Homo sapiens: one gene and its partners. The protein of the gene in region 1 purifies or fractionates together with the protein of each later gene. This does not show direct contact. Each region holds a gene or a part of one and is shown on either strand. Other genes may lie near its edges.

Region 1 (7,112 bases):
AAATATAGCCAGACCTGACTAACCTTGCCTGTATTTTCTTGTAGGCAGGAGAAAATCAGAGGCATCAAGATCTGGTAGAAGGGCCGGTCTGCTGTTTAACACATACCAGCAGACAGGTCCCACGTGGGAGGCACCACAGACCTTTAAGATAGGGTGAAGCCTTGATAGAAGGAGAAACAGAAGCTGCCCACTGTCTTTACTTAGAAGTGGAGAACATGGCATTCTGTATTTATTTATGTTGACTGCGCAACTTTACGTTTCTAAACCAGTCTTGTTACATGAAATTCCCTATAAAAACTCAGAACTTCAGTTGTTTAAAAAGTATTTCAATCTGCACTTCAGCAATATTATTTTAAATACCACCACTATTTTATCTGAACTTATTTTACCTATAACAACTTTTAATTTGTTGTGTTTAATATTAAAAGGGTCCATAGGAATTTATAGATTCAAGTTTCAGTATTCTTCTTCAGGTACTGAACCAAAAAAATGTACATTTAACATTAATCCAAAGTCTAAGCCTGGATATATTATTATTTGGTGGCAGGGTTCCTAAAAGATGGTCTCTTGCTCCTTCAGTGACAGCCACGTTGACAGACCACAGAGGTGCAAACACATGCACACTAAAGATTTCACAGCTACTCACAAGTGACGAGACTGACCACATCGAAGCACAGTTGTCCCTAAGAACATACAGCTCAAAAATGTTCATGTTCTCTTTAAGAATACTGAAGTATAACCATCCTCATGAAGATTACAGCTCCTTCTTACACTTGTAGGCACTGACTTACTCTGCAAGGCTGTGAAGAGAAGAATCTCAGCTCCAGTGTAGAAAAATAATACAGAATACGTGAGCACTTCCACGGGTGAGCCTGCCTCAGACCACTTCCCTCCAGACAGCATAAAGCAGATGCAGGCTGCTCTGTCAGAAATAGAACCATTCCTTGCCTCCTTGCCGTTGCAAACCCATTAACCATAAATCTGACAGGGATAAGAACAGATTTTTTCCTATTAAAGCAACTCTTTGGTCATGGACAAACTGAAAAGATTTGAAATTTTTTTTCATTAGGGTCCCGGAACAAGATTTCTTTGTTTTTAATCTTTAAAAAAATTAAGAAGAGCAGAAAAACAGTTGGTTTAATTGAAGTGGAATTTAAATCTAAATGGTCCGCCTGAGCTGAAGGGATTGAACCCTTGCCATGAGTTCCAGCTTCTGTGGAAAGGGTTGCCGCCGCCTCCTTGCTGGCTCTCTGCATCCAAAGGATCTTCTCCGTCGTCAAACTTCTTTCTCATTTCTAGAAAGAAATCAGAAAATTAAGAACCAGATAATATCTAAGGTATAGGGGCAGGGGGAATGTTTTCTTTGGGCAGAGGAGGGTGGGTGGGCTTGAGGAGCTACTTACTTTTCGGTTATCAAGAGTTGTGCCTGACATTCAAATCCAGGCTCTCCCATTCCCACCCTGAAGAAACAGACTAGAGAAATTTGCCACAAGGAGGGTGAGGTTCAGGGTTGATAATAGGTATTTATTGAGATTCAGGCCCCTAAATCTCACTCCAGAAGAAGCCACCCAAGCTTGATAACTACCCAATGAAATTATTTGGAAAAAAATAATTCAAGAGAAACTTCCAAGAGTCTACAATTCTAATGAAACAGCCAGCTCACCACCCTAATCCCCAAAATAAAGTCTGTAAGGCAATGACCTCATCAAGCATCTAATGAGCATTCTAGCACTAAGGCTCCTCAGACATGAGGGGAGCGGGGCCTCCATAACATACAACTCCAGGAGGTTCACCTTTCCCTCCCATGCAATTGGTGCCCCCACAGCGGGGCCTCTGAGCCCCGAACAGAGAGAGATCAATGCAGAGACATGGGAGAAGGCAATAAAGAGGAATATTGCAGGGATAGGAAGAAAGAGCTCATGTCCTCAGAGTCATTAGAAAAACCCTGGAAGACAACCTAGGCAAATACTATTCAGGACATAGGTATGAGCAAAGATTGCTTTTGGTGTTTCCATCATGAAATTGCAACAAAAGCAAAAATTGACAAATGAGATCTAATTAAACTAAAGAGCTTCTACACAGCAAAAGAAACTATCAACAGAGTAAACAGACAACCTACAGAATGGGAGAAAATTTTTGCAAACTATGCAACTGACAAAGGTCTACAAAGAACTTAAATGTACAAGAAAACAACCCCATTAAAAAGTGGGCAAAGGACATGAACAGACACTTCTCAAAAGAAGACATATATGCGGCCAACAATCATATGAAAAAAAGCTCAACATCACTGATCACTAGAGCAAATAATTAGATCATTATTGCAAATAAAAAATGGCTATTATTAAAAAGTAAAAAAAATAGATGCTGCCAAGGTTGTGGTGAAAAAGGAACGCTTATACACTATTGGTGGCAGTGTAAATTCATTCAGCCATTGTGGAAGACAGTGTGGCAATTCCTTAAAGAAAGAAATACCATTCAACTCAGCAATCTCATTACTGGGTATACACCCAAAAGAATATAAATTGTTCCATTATAAAGACACATGCACATATCAGTTTATTGCAGCTCTATTCACAATAGAAAAGACATGGAATCAACCTAAATGCCCATCAATGATAGACTGGATAAAGAAAATGTGGTACATCTACACCATGGAATACTATGCAGCCATAAAAAAGAATGAGATCATGTCCTCTTGCAGGGGCATGGATGGAGCTGGAGGCCACTATCCTTAGCAAACTAATGCAGGAACAGAAAACCAAATACCACATATTCTCACAAGTGGGAGCTAAATGATGAGAACTCATGGATGCATAAAGGGGAACAACACACACTGGGGCCTATTGGAGGGTGAAGGGTGGGAGGAGGGAGAGGATCAGGAATAATAACTAATGGGTTCTAGACTTAATACCTGGGTGATGAAATAATCTGTACAACAAACCCCCATAACACACATTTACCTATGTAACAAACCTGCACATGTACCCCTGAACTTACAAAAAAAAAATAAAAAGACTTAGCATATAGCTAGGTTTTTTAATAAATGGAAAATAGAGAATGCAGAAAAAAATGCAAATATAAAAATAATCCCAAGTCTCGCTTTGCTCTCTCACAGTAACTTGTCCTTTAGGGGTTCAAAGATACTTAGAGAAAAGCCAGTTTACTTCATTCTGGGAGGTTAATCTGAAGCCACATATTTAGGAGGAGGAAACCCACCAGTAAAACTGAGGGTTCTTATGCTGAGTGTTAATAACTAAGCGGGTATTGTAGGTGATCTGAAACTCAGCTTTGTTTTATAAAAGCTAATGCAGTTAGACTCAGGCCCCATATCTTTGATATCTCACAGGCAAAATTAATCTAGGGTGTTAGCACTTAGAACAGTAGTGAACTCTCCGTAGGGGTGGGGGTGATAATGGCCCCAGAGAAAGGATGCTGTGAATGGAAGGGGAAGTGAATTCAGCTATATTCACATTATGTAATTACTTAAAAATTCAGTGGAGTGGTCTGCATACATCTCAAAGAATGAGGTAACCATTTTTCAATGAGAAAAAACTATAGCCAAGATTTATTTCAAGTGAAAATTAAGTTTCAGATTGGCATACATCATGTGATTCTACTAAACATATTCCTAAATATGACACGTCTTGATATATGCATAGTAAAAAACTTTAAAGTCTTTAAAAGAAAAGATAGTTCATCCTGAACAGAAGAACAGGAGGTAAGAAAAAGGACCTGCAGCTCTTTCCTCAGTGCATGCCTCTGTGCAGGGACACCCATCCCCTTGGTTGGCTCCCTGGTACCTTAAAACGTAGCACAAAGTCCCTCTCACATAAGAAGATCCTGACTCCCAGTCTGATACACTATCACACCTGTGCACTGCACAAACTAAGAGGATTGAACTGCTTAAGGCAGGTTGTAGCCACTCAGTATTTGCTAAGTAACAGGACAGTATGTATCCAACACTACTTGATAAGGGAAGTACATTTCTGTCTCCTTTACTGGATTATAAATTACTTGAAAACGAAGGATCATTTACTTTCAATTCCACTGCAAGTACATTTCTGTCTCCTTTACTGGATTATAAATTACTTGAAAACAAAGGATCATTTACTTTCAATTCCACTGCATAAGTAAGTACTCAAAAAAGATTTGACAAACATAAAACTTTCCTCTCTTTTGTTTGTTTAGCTCAGATCACAGCTGCTGTTCCCACTGACATGGAAGGCCACAAAAAAGCAGTATAAGCTTAACATGAAATTCTCTGGCAGCAGCAAAGCATTGTTCAGTATTACCTCAATGCTTAGCCTGTCTCCCTCTTAACGAAATTTCCAGGCCATATTACTGTATGGCAAAAGAACACATGTGGCCAGGTGCAGAGGCTCACACCTGTAATCTCAGAACTTTGGGAAGATCACTTTAGCCCAGGAGTTAAAGACCAGCCTGGGCAACACAGTGAGATCCCATTTCTACAAAAAATAAAAATTAAAAAAAAAAAAAACACATATAAGCCTGTGAATCTAATGATCCTATGATTCAGGGCAAGATTCCTGGTGAACACATATGGGGCAAAGCAGGCCCTAGGCCAGACAGCTGTTCTTCTCCCACTCCATGTAATCCAGCCTGGCAAGCTGGTTTCCTCATCAAGCTCCTGTAAGCTTGGTGGAGAAAATTCATCATTGACCTTTGAGGTTAGAGGGAACCTGAGAGATCCTCTTATGCTCAGTGTTGAAAAAACTGAGACCAAAAAGTTCTGATAACTTCTTTGAGTAGAAAAAAGATTCAAATTCAGGCCCTCTGATTCCACATTTGATAGTCTTTCCACTGTACCCTGCAACAGGAGGGTGCCCAACATAAGAGGGCTGAATGAGGGCAGGCATAAAACTGGACCTCTGGAACTGGGCTCAGGACCCGTCACTGCCTATACAGCCCCACGTGGAGAACCCACCACATGTTCCACCCTCGCTTCTAACACCACCTCTAGGATGAGTCAAAGGAATAAAAGCTAATAATACCTGGATCAGAGAGGACTTCTTTAGCAGCTGCTATATCAATGAACTTTTTCTCAGCTTTTTTCTTTTCTTCTTCATTCTGGAAGTTATCTGGGTGCCACTGCAGTGCTAATTTTCGGTATGCTTTAATAATTTCTTGCTTTTTGGCATTTCTGAGGGGTGGTAAAATAAATAATCATTAGTGGAAAAGTGTCTAACATACTATCATAAAAATCAGAAGAGCTGATTAAGATCCTACTGGCAATTAACAAAACTGGTTTTATAAAATAGTTCCAATGGTATCACAGGCCAAAGATCTGCATACACAGTTCTGGATGATCATTAAAGCTGACATCAGGCTTCCTTGGATACTCGCTCACTAAGATTACTGAGAATAAAGCACTCCTGATCTTTAGAACTTTCCCTTTTTTAAAAAAGGTACATCAATGAATTTTTTAACTTTCTGAATTTCCAAGTTACCATAATTCAATTCTTGGTATTAAAAAATATTTGACTCTGAATGCCACTTTCAATTATGCTTCTGCATTAGCTTACTTAATAGTAAGCACAAAGATTCCAAATTTTGAAAAATTGATGGTTTACTCAGCGAACCACTGGGAGGTATATCATTTACTTAATTTCAGAATTCACCCACAGGCACTGGGAGGTGTATCATTTACTTAGTATGTACTTTTATATAAGGTAGATCTTAATTTCAGACTTAATTCTGAAAGCACTACTTTATTTTTAGGCCTAGAGAAGGCTTTTTCTTTACTCATTCCGTCTCCTCCTCCATCCCCACCAAAAGGAATCTCACTCCTACCCCTTTACCCTTCTTAAAAAATCTAGGCTTAGGACCCATTCATGCTACAGTGTCATCTTTGTTGCCAACTACTAATTCTGTTGTTGCATTATTGGTCTCTATCAAAGAAACTTGCCTATAAAATACTCAAAGTAGCTTTCTAATGTTAAAGACTGTTAAGGTTTAATCCATATGACTGAAATTACATAAGTAAAGAAAATGAATCAGAGAGGAAAAAGAGCAATGATTAGCTTTGAAACAGAGTTGATTAAAAATAGCAAAGTAAATTTTAAATTAATAATTCACCTTTTTACTCCCAAGATTTTATAATAATCTCGTTTCTGCGACTGTTTCAATAATCTTTGTGCTTTCTCTAGACCTTCTCGAATCTGCTGATCATTTTCATTGTGTTCCTGAGCAGTTTCATAATCCTGAATAGCTGTCAAAATATGTTTAAGATAATATTGTTAAGGCAAATTATAATTTATTGCCTTTTCTTATCCTGTAAAATTGATGCTAAAGTCGTCATCCCCCAACCCCTTCACTCTTTGGCCATTATTGCCAAAAACCTTAAGTGATACCCCGTTAGTAACTTTGATCAAGAATATTTAAGAGGCCGGGCACAGGGGCTCATGCCTGTGATCCCATCACTTTGGGAGGTCGAGGTGGGCGGATCATGAGGGTCAGGAGTTCAAAACCAGCCTGGCCAACACAATGAAACCCCGTCTCTACTAAAAAAAAAAACACAAAAATTAGCCGGGCATGGTGGTGCACGCCTGTAGTCCCAGCTACTCGGGAGGCTGAGGCAGGAAAACCGCTTGAACTTGGGAGGCGGAGGTTTGCAGTGGCCGACATCGCACCACTGCACTCCAGCCTGGGTGACAGAGTGAGATTCCGTCTCAAAAAAAAAAAAAAAAAAAAAAAAGGTTTAAAAGGCATAATAATGAAAACTGAGTTTAGGTAGTTTATTATTCTCATTCAACAAAATGTACTGCTGTTTACTTGCCCACCCTCCCGCATTATCTCCCCATACCCTCTGGGTAAATATGTTAATATCAGCACTTTATCCAGAGCAATCTTACCACCATTAAGACTAAGTGGTTGTTACACAGGAAAGAAAGACAGTGATAAAGAAAATCGGCCTGGTCAGCTATGGATTGACAACAGTCCAGAAGAATTAGACATTTAGAAAGGGATCAGGAGGTGGGTTTGGCCAATGGGAAGCTAGAAAAAAAAAATTTGTAGAAAGAAAGGGAACAGAAGGAACTGTCCACAATCCGAATGACTCAGTAACCCACAGGCTTTAACACTATTACAAACCT
Region 2 (7,000 bases), on another chromosome or scaffold:
TTAGAAAAGAAAACATGACCAATTTCCTCTAAAACCAAAATATACTCGTATTTCTGTGACAGTGAAGCAAGGGAGCTCAACTTAAAACATACAGAGATTCTAGATGACAGGTATCAGAATGGTGAGGAGAATGTAACCCTCTGAACAGAAAATTAGAACTAACTCAAGTCTTGGTATCTGAAACACTGCCAAATACCAAGAGACGAAACTCCAGCACACAGAAAGTCCTGATCCCACTGACTGGTCTGGCTGTATTTGAGATAGTAACACATGAATTCTCCCCTACAGTTTCCCAAGAATAATTGATTCTGAGGAATTGTTGTATTTCCTGGAGTTTTGCTTTTTTCTTTAGAGAAGTCCAAGTCAGCCAAGGGCCAACAGTCTATAGGTATCTTCAGGATTTCCTCCTGATTGGTCCTTCTCTACTATGTTTCTACTTCCAAGCAAAGTCTGGTCTCATCCCAACCAGGAATATCTGTAGTTTTTGAGGTACTTGGCTCTCTCAGAAGCCCTTAGGGGAAAGCGACATGAAAGAAATAAAAAAGAGTGCTGTCTTGAAATGAAAATGACAGTCATCTTTTCTGAACAGGGATGATATTTGTAATTTCATAGAATTAAGAGATATCTGACTCTCTCAGAAGTCCTCAGAGGAAAAGTCATGCAGAAGAACTACAAAAAAAAGTGGTATCTTGAAACTTAAATTAAAACTACATAGAAAATCTTAAAGATGGTTAAGAGTACATTCTTGCTGGTGGGATAGGAAATGTAATCAAATATCTGGAAGTCAGAATTACATAGTATGTTTTCAAAAGAAGGATGCCAGGAACCCCCCAACAGCTGAAAGAGAAAGTTAGAGGAAAAGTTTCCCACGGAAGGAAGGTGTCCCAGCAACCCTCCAAGGGCAACATTTAGTAGACAATGTACTAGAATACAGCCTTCCATATGTTAAAAAAAAAAAATGTTTCAGAGCTGACCAAGAAGACTAGACAATAACAAACCAAAGCTGGGGGATTGTCCCAAGACATCTAAATCTCCTTCTCTTTCACCTCCTATCTCCAATTAACTAAAGACAGTGATTACAACAGATCTCATGCACTCAGATGGATGAATGATAACTCATTTTCCCTGGCATTCTCCTCCTCATTAATGGACCCAACCTCAAAATAACTCCCATGCTATTTCCATTCCCTTCCATTGTTTGAAAACAATAAAAAAGTTCCAGACTTACCTCCGCAAGAAACTTAATTTCCCAGGTCTCTTCCTAGCACAAGTTTCACAGCCAGCAGCAAAACAAAAACAAATAAGGAGGGGAAAATAATTAATTTTCAAGTTTTACTTTGAAACCTCAGAGGCCCATAGAATTAGACAATCTCGTTGCAAAAGTACACAGACAAGCCTAAAACCATTTAGAGAACTCACCCCCAACAAGTCTCCAGGCTTCCCTAACTCTCTATTAGTCAATTTACAAAAACAATACCAACTCCAAGAATTTCCAGTCTCAATGGCTTGCGGCAAGACAGCTCCCAAATTTAAGAACTTCTGGGAAAACCAATTACCCTCTGGCAGCTTCTCATCTTCCTCCACAATTCCTTATTCCTATTTTGTTACAATATTAACGTTAACTTTCACCTTTAGAAAAAACTGGGAGGAAAGTGGTTACAGCAGACCAGCACTATCCTCCAAATTCTACATTTGGCCCTTTCCCTTAACTAGCACACAATGAGAACAAAATATCTAATGGCGCAGCATCCACTCATACGTCTATGTTTCACCAGGGAAAAGTTTTTCTACATACAGTATCCATGTTACCCCCTCCCTTCCAGACTTAAAACAGCAAAAGGGTCTGGAAACTACAGCACTCATTTAATTAACCTGTCTAGATGCCACTCTATCTTTTCTCTTTCCCTCCTCAGACTTCCAGAGCCTCCACCTTAGCATATAGGGTTCCAATATAGCCATGTCTGCTCCCCCACTCTTGTATTGCTAATGCTAAAAACTAGAAAAGTCCTTTGCTCCTCCACACTTGGGCGACACCGGCTTCCCCATTTTCCCAAGCAGGAAAAACAAGGGAACAGTAAGCTAGGGAGTCTTTTGGAAAACAAACCCAGTTGAATTCTCATCCAACCCCAATTCTGCAAACCCACATGACCATTCCCTTCTGCCCTTCCCACCCTCTTAAAAGCTAAGGGCCTGGCAATTAGAATTGGCTGCAACTGATGCTGCTTAACTCTGTTCTCTCCTCCTCTCCACCGGGGAAAGGGAAACCCCCGAACCTCTATCACCCGTGCAGCTCCACTGTCCTATCTCCCATTCCACTCCCCTTCCTCCCAAACTTTCTTCCTCCCAGTCTCTCACTTTCTCCATTACCTCCTCCCACCGACACTCTCTCCATTCCCCAAGCCTCCGTTCTCTCCTTTTCCACCCAAATTCTCCCCTAGGCCCTTCCCCCTCCCACCTCCAATTTAACACTTTCGAAGCCCCCCAGAAACGTCTTAACTCCAATTCTGACCTTTACCCACCTCCTCGCAACACCCCTCATCAGAGTCCAGTCCTCCCTCCAACCACATGCCACAGCCCCCTTCCCCTTCACACCCTCAGCCTCTCCCTCCTGCTCCTACCCCCTTCAATACGAGCGGATCGCAGCCCCACTCCCCACCTCGGCCTCTCTAATACCCCTGGCTGGGCCCAGTCTCAGCCCTTGTTTACGCCCCTCCCCATGCCCTCACTCCTCCGTCTCGACCCCTGCCCTCTCCCGCAGTTGCCATCTCCCCTGCACGCCCCCCTCGGCAGCTCCCCTCCCCCACCTCTCAGCGTCCCGTCACCTCCCTCTCTTGAGGTTCTCAGGCTGGACGTCGCCACCGCCTCCCCCTCCACTTTCCTTCCCCAAGCCCTTTGCGGCCCCGCCCGGCCCCGCCCCGTCCCGCTCGACTCCCTCTCCCCACTCCGGCCGCCCCTCCGCCTCACTCTCGGCTCAGGCTCGGCGCCGCCATGTTGGATCCATCCGCGCCGCTCTCCCGGGCCTGCCTCACGGCGCCGCATCCGGGCTCCAGCAGCCGCCGCCGCCGCCGCCGCCGCGGCCGTGGGGGAGGGGACAGGCGGGCGGGGGTGGCTGCATCCTGAACGGCGCCTCCCGGAACCCGGCCGGTTAGTGGCGGCTTCGAGGCCATAGTGAGACATGAGCCGGAGTAGCCATAGTAAGTGAGGGCAGCCTGGCAGCGGCATTAATCGGGGAGTGGATAGCTTCACTTCGGGAGGAGAGATAGAGATTGGCAGCCATCTTGCTTTGGGGCAAGCTGGCAACGCCGGTTTGTCTTGACGGCTGCTTAGGGCGGTAATAAGGGATCGAAGAGGATAGCATTCTTGAATGGGAAACATTGGTGGCGCCACAGCTGGCTGGTGGCGACTTCAAGACCCACTGGAAGGCTGGGATTGGCAGCCATGACTCATAAGGGCGGAATACCACGGGGATCGGTTTGTCTGGCGAACTTGAGTGAAGGGTCAAGATCTGGATTTCACCTTTCCTCTGAGCTTCCTGATAACCCGGACGTTCCGTAAACCCGGATCCGGAGCCGAAAGTGGTGCCCAGATCCCGTCTCGGAATTCATTTGTTCAGCATTTACCTTTTGAACGCCGGTTTCCTGTAGGAAGTGTCGCCTAGCTGATCCGTGTAGGGCTGTTGGGAATTGGGGGTGGGGAGGATGGTGCGGGTACGTTCTGGTGTGGCTTAAGAAAGTGGTAATAGATAGGGGAAGACCAGATTATGCGAAGCCTTGTAAATTAATTGATTTTTATCCTTAAGGCAATGAAAAGTCTTTGAAGAATCTCAGCAGAGGTGTGAACAATTTCATTTGCATTTTAGATCGCTGCGTGCAGTGTGAAGGATGAATGAATTGAGGAGAATCAAGGAGAGCAGTTGTGAGGCTCTTTTCCAGGCAAGGATGATGATGGTCTGCCTGTGGAAGGGAGAGTGCGGATGGGGAGATACAGATTGGTTTAAGAGGTACGAATGTTGTGACTTGGACAACTGGGGAATAATGATACCAGTTTCTTTCTCGTTTAGGGGGGAGATAATGAGTTTTAGGTGCCCCTGGGATATTAGCTAATGTGGGTTGGGAACTCAAAAGAAAGGTTTGAGGTGTGTGTGCGTGTGCATATAGATAGCTGTTGAAGCCATGAAGTGGGCTGGAGAGGATACCTGCATTTGCGGGATAGGATGAGGGAAGCCGAAAAGAACACTGAGAAGGGGCAAACCGAAAGGAAAGAAGAAAACCATAGAGAACTATCAAGGAAACTGGTGAAAGCGTTTAGTGTAACAGAGATATAGTAAAATGCTAACTAAAATATATACATCAGGGCCGGGCATGGTGACTCACACCTGTAATCCTAGCTTTGGGAGGCCGAGGCGGGTGGATCACTTGAGGCCAGGAGTTCGAGACCAGCCTGACCAACATGGTGAAACCCTGTCTCTTCTAAAAATACAAAAAAAATTAGATGGGTGTGGTTGCACATGCCGGTAATCCCAGCTACTTGGGAGGCTGAAGCATGAGAATTGCTTGAACCCAGGAGGCAGAGGTTGCAGTGAGCCGAGATCGCGCCACTGCATTTCAGCCTGGGCACCAGAGCAAGACCCTGTCTCAAAAAAAATGAAATAAATAGGCCGGGTGCTGTGGCTCACTCCTGTAATCCCAGCACTTTGGGAGGCCATGGCGGGCAGATCACCTGATGTCAGGAGCTGGAGACCAGCCTGGTCAACATGGTGAAACCCCGTCTCTACTAAAAATACAAAAATCAGCCAGGCATGGCAGTGCGCGCCTGTAGTCCCAGCTACTGGGGAGGCTGAGGCACAAGAATCGCTTGAACCCAGGAGGCAGAGGTTGCAGTGAGCTGAGGTCGTGCCACTGCACTCCAGCCTGGGTGACAGAGTGAGACTCTGTCTCCAAAAAAATAAAATAAAGTAAATAAAATGTATCTATCAGATATTGCAACAAGGGCCAGGCACAGTGGCTCACACCTGTAATCCCAGCACTTTGGGAAGCCTAGGCAGGTGAATCACTTAAGACCAGGAGCTGGAGACCAGTGTGGTCAACATGGCAAGACCCCATCTTTACAAAAAATACAAAAATTAGCTGGGCATGGTGGTGCGCACCTGTGATCGCAGGTACTCCAGAGGCTGAAACATGATAATCACTTGAACCCAGGAGGCGGAGGTTGCAGTGAGTCAAGATTGCACCACTGCACTCTCGGCAACAGAACAAGACTTTGGTTTTTTTGTAAATAAAACAAATAAATAAAAAGGCCAGGTGTGGTAGCTCACACCTGTAATCCCAGCACTTTGGGGACCGAGGTGGGCCGATCACCTGAGGTCAGGAGTTCGAGACCAGCCTGGACAACATGGTGGAACTCCCATCTCTACTAAAAATACACAAATTAGCCAGACATGGTGTCGGGCACCTGTAATCCCAGCTACTTGGGAGGCTGAGGTGGGAGAATCGCTTGAACCCAGGAGGCGGAGGTACAGTGAGCCGAAATTGCACAATTGCACTCCAGTGAGACTCTGTCCCCCCAAAAAAGATACTGCAACAAGGAGGTCATTTAGGAAATTTGGAGAAAGCTGTTTTGTAGTTATGGTGGATAGAAACCAGATTGAATTGAGAAGGCACAACGTATAAAGACAGTTTTTTCATGGTGTTGATGTAAAAAGGAGACTAGTGGTAGGGTGTTGCAGGAGGGAGAATTCCAAAGAAGGTGAAGAAGTTTTAGGTACCTGTGAGATAGCTAGATAGATATGTCCTAGTGGCATGTTTAATACACAGATCTAAAACTTAAGAGAAAAATATAAGTGGAGAAAAAAAGCAAGCACAGAATAAATATGACACATTTACACATGCATTAAAAAATTATGAAGAGTGGGCCTAGGAGGGATAAGACTTATACTTTTCATTTTACATCTATCTTTATTGCTTGAAATTATTTTATTATGCACATATTATTTTACAGAAAGCTACTTTTTTTTTTTCTTTTTTGAGACAGTCTCGCTCTGTCACCCAGGCTGGAGTGCAGTGGCACATCTCAGCTCATTGCAACCTCTGATTCCCAGGTTCAAGCAATTCTCCTGCCTCAGCCTCTTGAGTAGCTGGGACTACAGGTGCACGCCACCATGCCTGGCTAATTTTTTGTATTTTTAGTAGAGACGGGGTTTCGTTATGTTGGCCAGGCTGGTCTCAAACTCTTGACCTCGTGATCCACTCTCCTCGGCCTCCTAAAGTGCTGGGATTACAGGCGTGAGCCATGGTACCTGGCCAGAAAACTACTTTTTAGAAAGCCCTGTGATATATAGGCCAGAAATTCTGAAACATCAACATTTCGGTGGTAGTTGAAGCCATAGATTTGGATAAGCTCCCCAGAAAAGAGCAGAGGGCTAAGAAGAGTGCTCTCGGAAATTCCAACATTTAAGGCACAAGTAGAAAAAGAGCTCTTGGAGAATCTTTGAAAAGGAACAGCGAGTGAAGAAGAAGAAAACCTGGGAGATAATTGTCACAGAATCAAAGGGAAGAGTATTTCAAGGGGGTGGATGTTGAAAGTGTCAGATGTCCCCACAGAGGCAGCTGATAGGAAAGGTGCTCTTACCTCTGAACCTAGGTTTCTTGGAAGCTTGGCACAAGAGTCAAATCCAGATCTTGAACCTTTCCCCAAGTATCACTGGGCAGTACAACCCCCAGGCTATTCTGCCCTTATGCATCATGGCTGCCAGTCCCAGTCTTTCAGTGAGTCTTCAAGTCAACACCAGCCAGTGCTGGCACCATCAATCTTACTACACTTAATAATGATACCCTGGCTGGGTGTGGTGGCTCACACCTGTAATCCCAATACTTTGGCCAGGAGTTCAAGATCAGCCTGGGCAACATAGTGAGAGACCCCATTTCTACAAAATTTTTTTTTAATTAGGTGGGTGTGCACTTGCCTGTAGTCCCAGCTATTTGGGAGGCTGAGGTGGGAGGAT
Region 3 (7,112 bases), on another chromosome or scaffold:
TCAAGGTGATCCCGATGCTCTGGAACCCCCAAATGGCTCACTCATCGTGGATCACTTTAAAGCTTTCTTCGTTTCTAACATGGGAAAAATAGTCCTGTTTCTTGCTTTTCTCTTACAGTTTCTAGATGCTCTTTTCCCACTCCCACCCCACGTGGGGAACCCAGCTCATCCGGATCTGCATGCTCGTAGCTTTCTCCACAGGAGGCTGAGAAGCCACCAAACACAGAGAGGGATCTGAACGGCTGGGGATACTTAGTGCCGATCACAGGGCCCCGCTTCGTATGCTTTGAAATGCTTGTATTTAAGTCAACTCTGTCCCCTCTCCTGGCAGAGTTTTCAGCTGAAGATGGTGAGTGTAACCGCAGAACTGAAATGTACAGGGATGAGTGGAAGGTGGGGCAGCTGGAGACGATATTTGTTACTTTAGGAAAACAATTATTTTTCTCAGACTTAGGGACAGTGGACCGTCTAGACTGGCAAATGTTTTAAATTGGGGGCATCTTAACTCAGCCATTTCTTATACCACCAGATGTTTGTCTGGCCATTGTTTCCCAAATGAAAACATCTGTTTCATTTGCGGCAATGAAAGAAACAGTTGTTTTTCTGTACTTGGGGCAGCCTCAGTGTCTTTGCCCACGATTTCCTATGCTGTCCTTATGGTGCACTTCTTTTGACAGAGAACTTGAACCATATTTAAAAGGCTGCTTAGGAAAAGAGCTGGCAAGTCCATTTGTACAGTTAGATGTAGGTGTTTTCAGGCATGTTGGAAAGTCATACACAATTAGGAAGTGCATGTTCAAATGCATTAGGAAACTTCGGTATGTCTTCATGCCACTGTATCAGTGTAGACAGTCATGCACTGCTTAACCGCAGGGAGGCATTCTGAGAAATGTGGCATTAGGCCATTTCGTCCTTGTGTGAACATCATAGCGGGCACTTACACAAACCTAGATGGTGTAGCCTACTGCACACGTAGGCTGTATGGGATGGCCTATGGCTTCTAGGCTGCAAACCTGTATACGGTGTGACTGTACTGAATATTGCAGGCAACTGTAACACCATGGTAAGTACTTGTGTATCTAAACATAGAAGAGGTACAGTAAAAACACAGTGTTGGCAGAGCCCGGTGGCTCATGCCTGTAATCCTAGCCCTTCAGTAGGTGGAGGCAGGAGGAACGCTTGAGACCAGGAGTTCAAGACCAGCCTGTGCTACGCAGGGAGACTCTTATCTCTACAAAAAATAAAAAATTAGCTGGGTGTGGTGGCACGTGCCTGTAGTCCCAGATACTTGGGAGCCTGAGGTGGGAGGATCGCTTGAGCCCAGGAGGTCAAGGCTGCACTCCAGCCTGGGTGACACAGTGAGACCCCATTTCAATTAAAAAAAAATATATATGATATTGTAATCTTATGTGATCACCACCTTATACAAGGTCTGTCATTGACCAAAATGTTGCACACACACGACTATATTTGTAACTTATGAAAAAGGAATTGCTTTTATATTAGGTATGAAACAACAAAAAACAGGTACTGGTACTGTAGATAGCCTGTGTGTGTGTTAACCATGGCTGCCTCTTCTCTTTGTTTTCATTGAAATGATAGGAAATTGCTCAAGGGGTGGTTGGGAATTAATTGTCCTAAGAAAGTCTGCACTGTCTTCTCCTTATGATCATGGAGTCACCCAGTTTCTCCATCTCTAATTATTCTTACTGTAAGCTGGAAATTCTGGTGTTTTGCTGTGCATTCCTTTCTGGTCTCTGGTGGGGATTAGAAGTACCACTTTCTGAAGCGGCAGCTTTGACTTTGCAATTTTCTATTATATTTCTTTATTTCTTATAATGGTTACAGGCCTCTTGATCTGCTATTCTCAGGAAAATTCCATAAACCTTCCTGGTTGTAGGTGGAGCCTTACCAGAGGACATTTATTTTTATTTTTAATCTTTTCCTATGAAACACTATTAATTAATTAATTATTTTTTTTTTGAGACGGAGTTTCGCTCTTGTTGCTCAGGCTGGAGTACAATGGCGTGATCTCGGGTCACTGCAACCTCCGCCTCCCAGGTTCAAGTGATTCTCCTGCCTCAGCCTCCTGAGTAGCTGGGATAACAGGCATGCCCCACCATGCCGGGCTAATTTTGTATTTTTAGTAGAGATGGGGTTTCTCCATGTTGGTCAGGCTGGTCTCGAACTCCCGACCTCAGGTGATCCGACCTCCTCGGCCTCCCAAAGTGCTGGGATTACAGGCGTGAGCCCCCTCACTCGGCCAAAACACTGTTAATTTTTAAAGAAGTTGAACCTTGTGGCATTGTTTGTGGTTTGCTAATTTGTAATATGAGTTCCCTGCCCTTTTGTTTATTGTATTTTTGCCTTCAGGTCCACGCTTTCTTGGGGTTCTTTTTAGAAACCCAGCACTCGAAAGTGAGCTTCTGCATTTCTATGTTTTCATTAGCATTGCTGAAAACATATTTAAGCCTGTTTAAGAGGCCTCTGGTTTGTTGAACACAAATGCAGAGGAAGTGTTGTTTTTTTTCCCTAAAACAGTCAAAAAGTTAAAAACTGTCTTTGGTACAGTTTTCACAAGGGTAGTTTGATTAGATATGGGTAGATAAGACACAAGCTACTTATCACCTTTCCGTAGGTCTTTTTGTTTCTTACCGGTATATCATCCCACTGCTGACTCTTCACAAGTTCGTAAGAAGGTTCTGTTAAATCAAATTTGGGAACAGGGAATCCAGGAATAGCATTGTGCAGATGGAAACCAAATGTCACCAGCCAGCTGTTAACATCTAGGAGAAGAATGTTCAGAATGAAAGGTGTTGGAGTTTGTTTTGTCCTTTCATAAATTTAAATTCTTACCTTAAAAAGAAAATCCAATTTCACAATTAATAATCTGAAAAAGAGCACCTGTTTGCTTTCGTCCTACAAATCTAAACCTACTGTTTTTAGACATGAAGACGGTAACCTTCACAGCAGAACTATGGCAAATGCTACGAAAAATGCGAGTAATAGATGCTCAGACAGACTGGGTAAGCCATCAGTCCTGCTAAGTTGCAGCCTGTGCTAGTAACAGTGCTAGCAAAGGTAAGAACAATGCACAGCAGCAGGAGAGAGACATACTTGTAGAAAAGAAACGAAATTTATTTTGTAGTTGGTCAAGGCTGGTCTCAAATAGAAGTTGTGTGTTATTAGCTCTCCAAAGCGATTGCCCAAGGATATGCGGACTTCCACAACCCATTTTCTATTAATAAAACCCCTAAATTGAGAGTATTAAAATCAACAGTTGATTCTTAATCAAAGATGAATGCTGCAAGCTGGCAAAACTGGCCAAGGGCCCAGAAGTCCTGATTACCATCAGTTGTGACTTCAAAGGCTCACTGTGCACAGGTGGAGACAAACTTTTTGGGGAGAGAACCCGGAAACCTTTAAGGTGGTATTTTAAAATATTGCCATGTGACTCCAAAAGCCATTCAGCTCAGAATAAGGCTTTTATTCTATTCTGGAGGTTATAATGTTACAGAACTACTCAGCAGGCTTGCAGCTTTATGAGAACGGTTGGGTGTAGATTATTTTATATATTAAGCACATTGCTGGAAAATTTGAAATTGCATTTCACCTAATATATTTTATGCTGTTCCATCTCTCTTTTGATGTTTTTCAGAAAATGCTGCTATGGCATTCCCTGCAGTCCACGTTGCTAGGAGAGGATGAATTCAGGAGCTGTGGGCTTTCCAGACTTTCAGTCAGCCCCTGTCAACACCCCTTAAATAACCAGTGGTAAACTGCCTGTCAGAATGATGGAGAGCCACTTGATTCCCATTTCCTTCTCTAGGGCACAGACTCTCACCTCATTGCCAGGCTGGCAGGTCATTCGTCCAGGCATCATATGGCTATAAAACCAGTGGTATTCTTTTTATTTGAAATGGGGTGGTAGTAGTGGTGGTGGGGAGACATAAATCCTAAGTGGTTCACACAGGATGCAAAGTGACACAATTTGTGTGTATGTAAGAGTGTATATGAGTTTGGGGGTGGGAGGGCCTTATTTTGGGAGAAAATTCTCCCAAATGTTGGAGTATTGGGGGCAAAAATTCTGTTACTCTGAACAATGTCTGCATAACAGTGAAAATCAGAGGACCGTAAGTATTGAAAAGTACTGCCAAAATAATGGGGTTTGAAGGCAGATGTGTATTGAAAAACCCTGAATGAGAATAAGGGTGCTGCTGAATCAGGAGGCAGAAAGGAGGGACTTTCAGCTGGTTCACATGGAAGAGATATGAAATGCTTTAGACAGTCTGGAAAGGTAGGAAGCAGATGTGAAATGAACAGGGGGCAACCTGTTGAGAGCTGTTTTGAGAACTGAGAGAACAGACATCTCAGTATGCCTCAAATATTGAGCTAGAAAAGAGGCAGCCTAAAGGAGCATCTAACACAAGCCAAAACAAAACCAAAATACCTTAAATCAAGCCCAAAAAAAAAAGACAACAGGAAAGAACCTTCCTCCTGGAAATATAAATGTGGTAGAGGGGTTAATGATGGTGCTGTATATCAGGAATGGAAGGTAGGAGCAGCAGGATTCAGAATTCTTGGAGTAGAGGTTGAGTGAAGAAGTCAGCTCACTAAAGGGAACTAGAGTAATGCTTGCAAGGACCTTGTCTGTTTCACATGCTGGTTGTTCCATGGTGGCAGAAGTGGGATCTGATGTTCTACATCTTGCATAACTAAAAAGGTAGCATGCACTAAACTTGGAAAGATCTTAAATCTGTACCCTGAAAATTATCCCACATTCGTGGAAAAATTAGTATGCCTATTAGTATTGTCACCATGCAAGAACTGCACTGGCAATGAAGACAGTGATGTAAGAAGACAGAAGTGAGTCCAGACACAGGATCCATTGTCTAAGCAACTGATGGGAGAAATGGCTTCGTGACTGTCCTGAGGCAATGGTGGTGAGGCAGGAATTAAACACCTCCCAGGGATGAAATGGTGTCACCTTGTATTGTGTTTCACCTTAATTATCTCCATGAGAACTTCACACATGTATTAAAAAAACCCAACATGACACATTCGTAAGGTAGTTACTATCTGTTGCAGAATTTCATGTATTATATTTGTGCCCTAAGTTAGCCATTATTATCCCAATTTTATAGTTAAGGGAATGGAAACTCAAAAAACATATGGCTTGCTTACAGAGCTACACAACTTGTGGGAGAGGAGCTGGGATTGGGACTCCAATTTTGGGACTCTGTGTTCATCATGTTTTTTGGTCCCCCATGTTCCCCTTCTTTAAATGACTGAGTACATGTCATTTCAAAAACTTGTGGCCTTGGGCAATGGCAGGCAGAATAGGAAGTAAATATGTCTCATTTTCCCTTTGTGATTTCTCTATGGTTCCATAAAGAAATAAACACATTTAAAAGGTTAGCCATTTGCCTTTGCCTGAGTAAAGTATAAAGTTTTTTAAAAAAGCATTTCCAGTTATTTTGTGTATTAATCTAATGATGGTAGTCCTCCAGCTCTTGGGAAGGAATCAAAATGCTTACCTGTGATGTAATCTTTCACGTCATGGATTTTGCTTGCAGGGTTGTTATTCCTAAACATGTACAAGTTAAAAGGAGCTGGGTCCTTCCCAATTCTTTTCCAGATTTCTATGTCAGGTGTTGTCCACCGTCCTGCCAAAATGTCATAATCTCTTTCTCCAAAGTGGATTAATTTGGTGAGTGGGTCATACAGGCCACCATGAAATCCAATTACCAGTTGAAAGTCAATATTAGAGTCAAAATAGATTTCCCCATATGCAGTGTACTGAATCTGTTTCAGCATAAGCCCATTGCTACTGAACACAGCCAGTGGTGTCCCTGTGTTATCCGATGCAATATAGAATTCATCCCCACTGCTGATTTCCATGGCAAAAAGATGTCCTTGGAGATCATAATACAGGGAGGTAATTTCTGAACTCGAATGGTTGTAGACATGAGTAATCCTAGTGGGATAAGTTAAGTCAGCATAAAAAAACTGCAGGTGCTGTCCTAGACTGGTTTTGCTAGAAACACGCCTTCCCAGGCCGTCATAACGGTAGATCACTGTCCAGCCACTGCCTTTACTGTAAACTCGAGTTAGAAGCCCCTTGGAGCTATATTCAAAGATTTCCGTGCCCCTTTGACGTAGGAAACCATCTTCATCCAACCGATATTGAACATCACCCAGTCGAGTGATTCTGTCTCGCAGGTCATAGCGAAGGGGTGTCAGACGCGCACTGTTACTTGGGTTCAGTAAATGGAGGTTTCCATTCAGATCGTAGTTGTACCGCCACATTATCTTTTCATTGAGGTAAACTGTTTGGAGCTGTCCATCAACATCATATTCATAAGCATATTTGGTGGTGTTGGCAAAGGGCCCTATTTTAATCTCTCTCTTGGTTACCCGACCCATGTTATCATACTGAATTGTAATCCAGTACATGAGCGACCTGAATATCTCATATTGAATCTCCTTGATACGGCCATGAGCATCAAAGTGCTTCGTATAGGTCATTACAGCTGTAGAAATGATCTGGTTAATATCATAATATATAACTCCAAACTTTCCAAACTGCTCAACTTTGCCAGAAATGTCATCAAACTGATACAGATCAATAGGCAGTGGCGTTTCATTGATCACACCCTGCATGCTGGTCACTCGAAAGCTGTTGTCATAGCTATAGTCAAATCTTGCATTTACCATCCCATCTTCACTAAAGCGGAAAATCTGCCTGTCAATCAGGGGACCAATTTGCCTGTATCTAATGGTGCAAATAAAACCATCACTCTGGAGGTTTACTGTCTTTAGGACTCCTGCTGTTTCATCATAGGTAAAACTGACTCTTGTGCTATCATATAAAATTTCTGAGAGCCTAGTCTGCCTTCTGTATTTGAATAAGACCCTCCGACTTGTACCCAAGAAAGCTGTTTGTAGAAGCAGCCCTTCCTCGTTGTAGTCCGTGATGATGGAGGCGTTGCTTTCCGGGGGGTTGTATATGTTGCGGTAGTAGCCAATGGATCGGATGGTCTGCATGGTGTGGCGAGCCACACTGGGCATGGTGATGGCAGACAGGCGGTCCCACATATCGTATTCGAAGA

The links.
Region 2: the proteins of DNAJC3 (region 1) and DEDD purify together in Homo sapiens (co-immunoprecipitation; 2 studies listed by BioGRID and IntAct, with this or other methods). This does not show direct contact.
Region 3: the proteins of DNAJC3 (region 1) and TENM3 purify together in Homo sapiens (co-immunoprecipitation; 2 studies listed by BioGRID and IntAct, with this or other methods). This does not show direct contact.

What each region holds. Positions count from the first base shown.
Region 1 is NC_000013.11:95,785,056-95,792,167, reverse strand, and holds part of DNAJC3 (dnaJ homolog subfamily C member 3 precursor), read right to left. Parts: intron 6,230-7,112; coding exon 6,097-6,229; intron 5,162-6,096; coding exon 5,013-5,161; intron 1,296-5,012; coding exon 1,138-1,295; 3' UTR 1-1,137. UniProt on the Homo sapiens protein: Involved in the unfolded protein response (UPR) during endoplasmic reticulum (ER) stress.
Region 2 is NC_000001.11:161,129,587-161,136,586, forward strand, and holds the start of DEDD (death effector domain-containing protein), read right to left. Parts: upstream 3,082-7,000; 5' UTR 2,965-3,081; intron 2,861-2,964; exon of another isoform or gene 2,805-2,860; intron 1,262-2,804; 5' UTR 1,229-1,261; intron 1-1,228. UniProt on the Homo sapiens protein: A scaffold protein that directs CASP3 to certain substrates and facilitates their ordered degradation during apoptosis. May also play a role in mediating CASP3 cleavage of KRT18. Regulates degradation of intermediate filaments during apoptosis.
Region 3 is NC_000004.12:182,792,311-182,799,422, reverse strand, and holds part of TENM3 (teneurin-3), read right to left. Parts: coding exon 5,538-7,112; intron 2,787-5,537; coding exon 2,656-2,786; intron 1-2,655.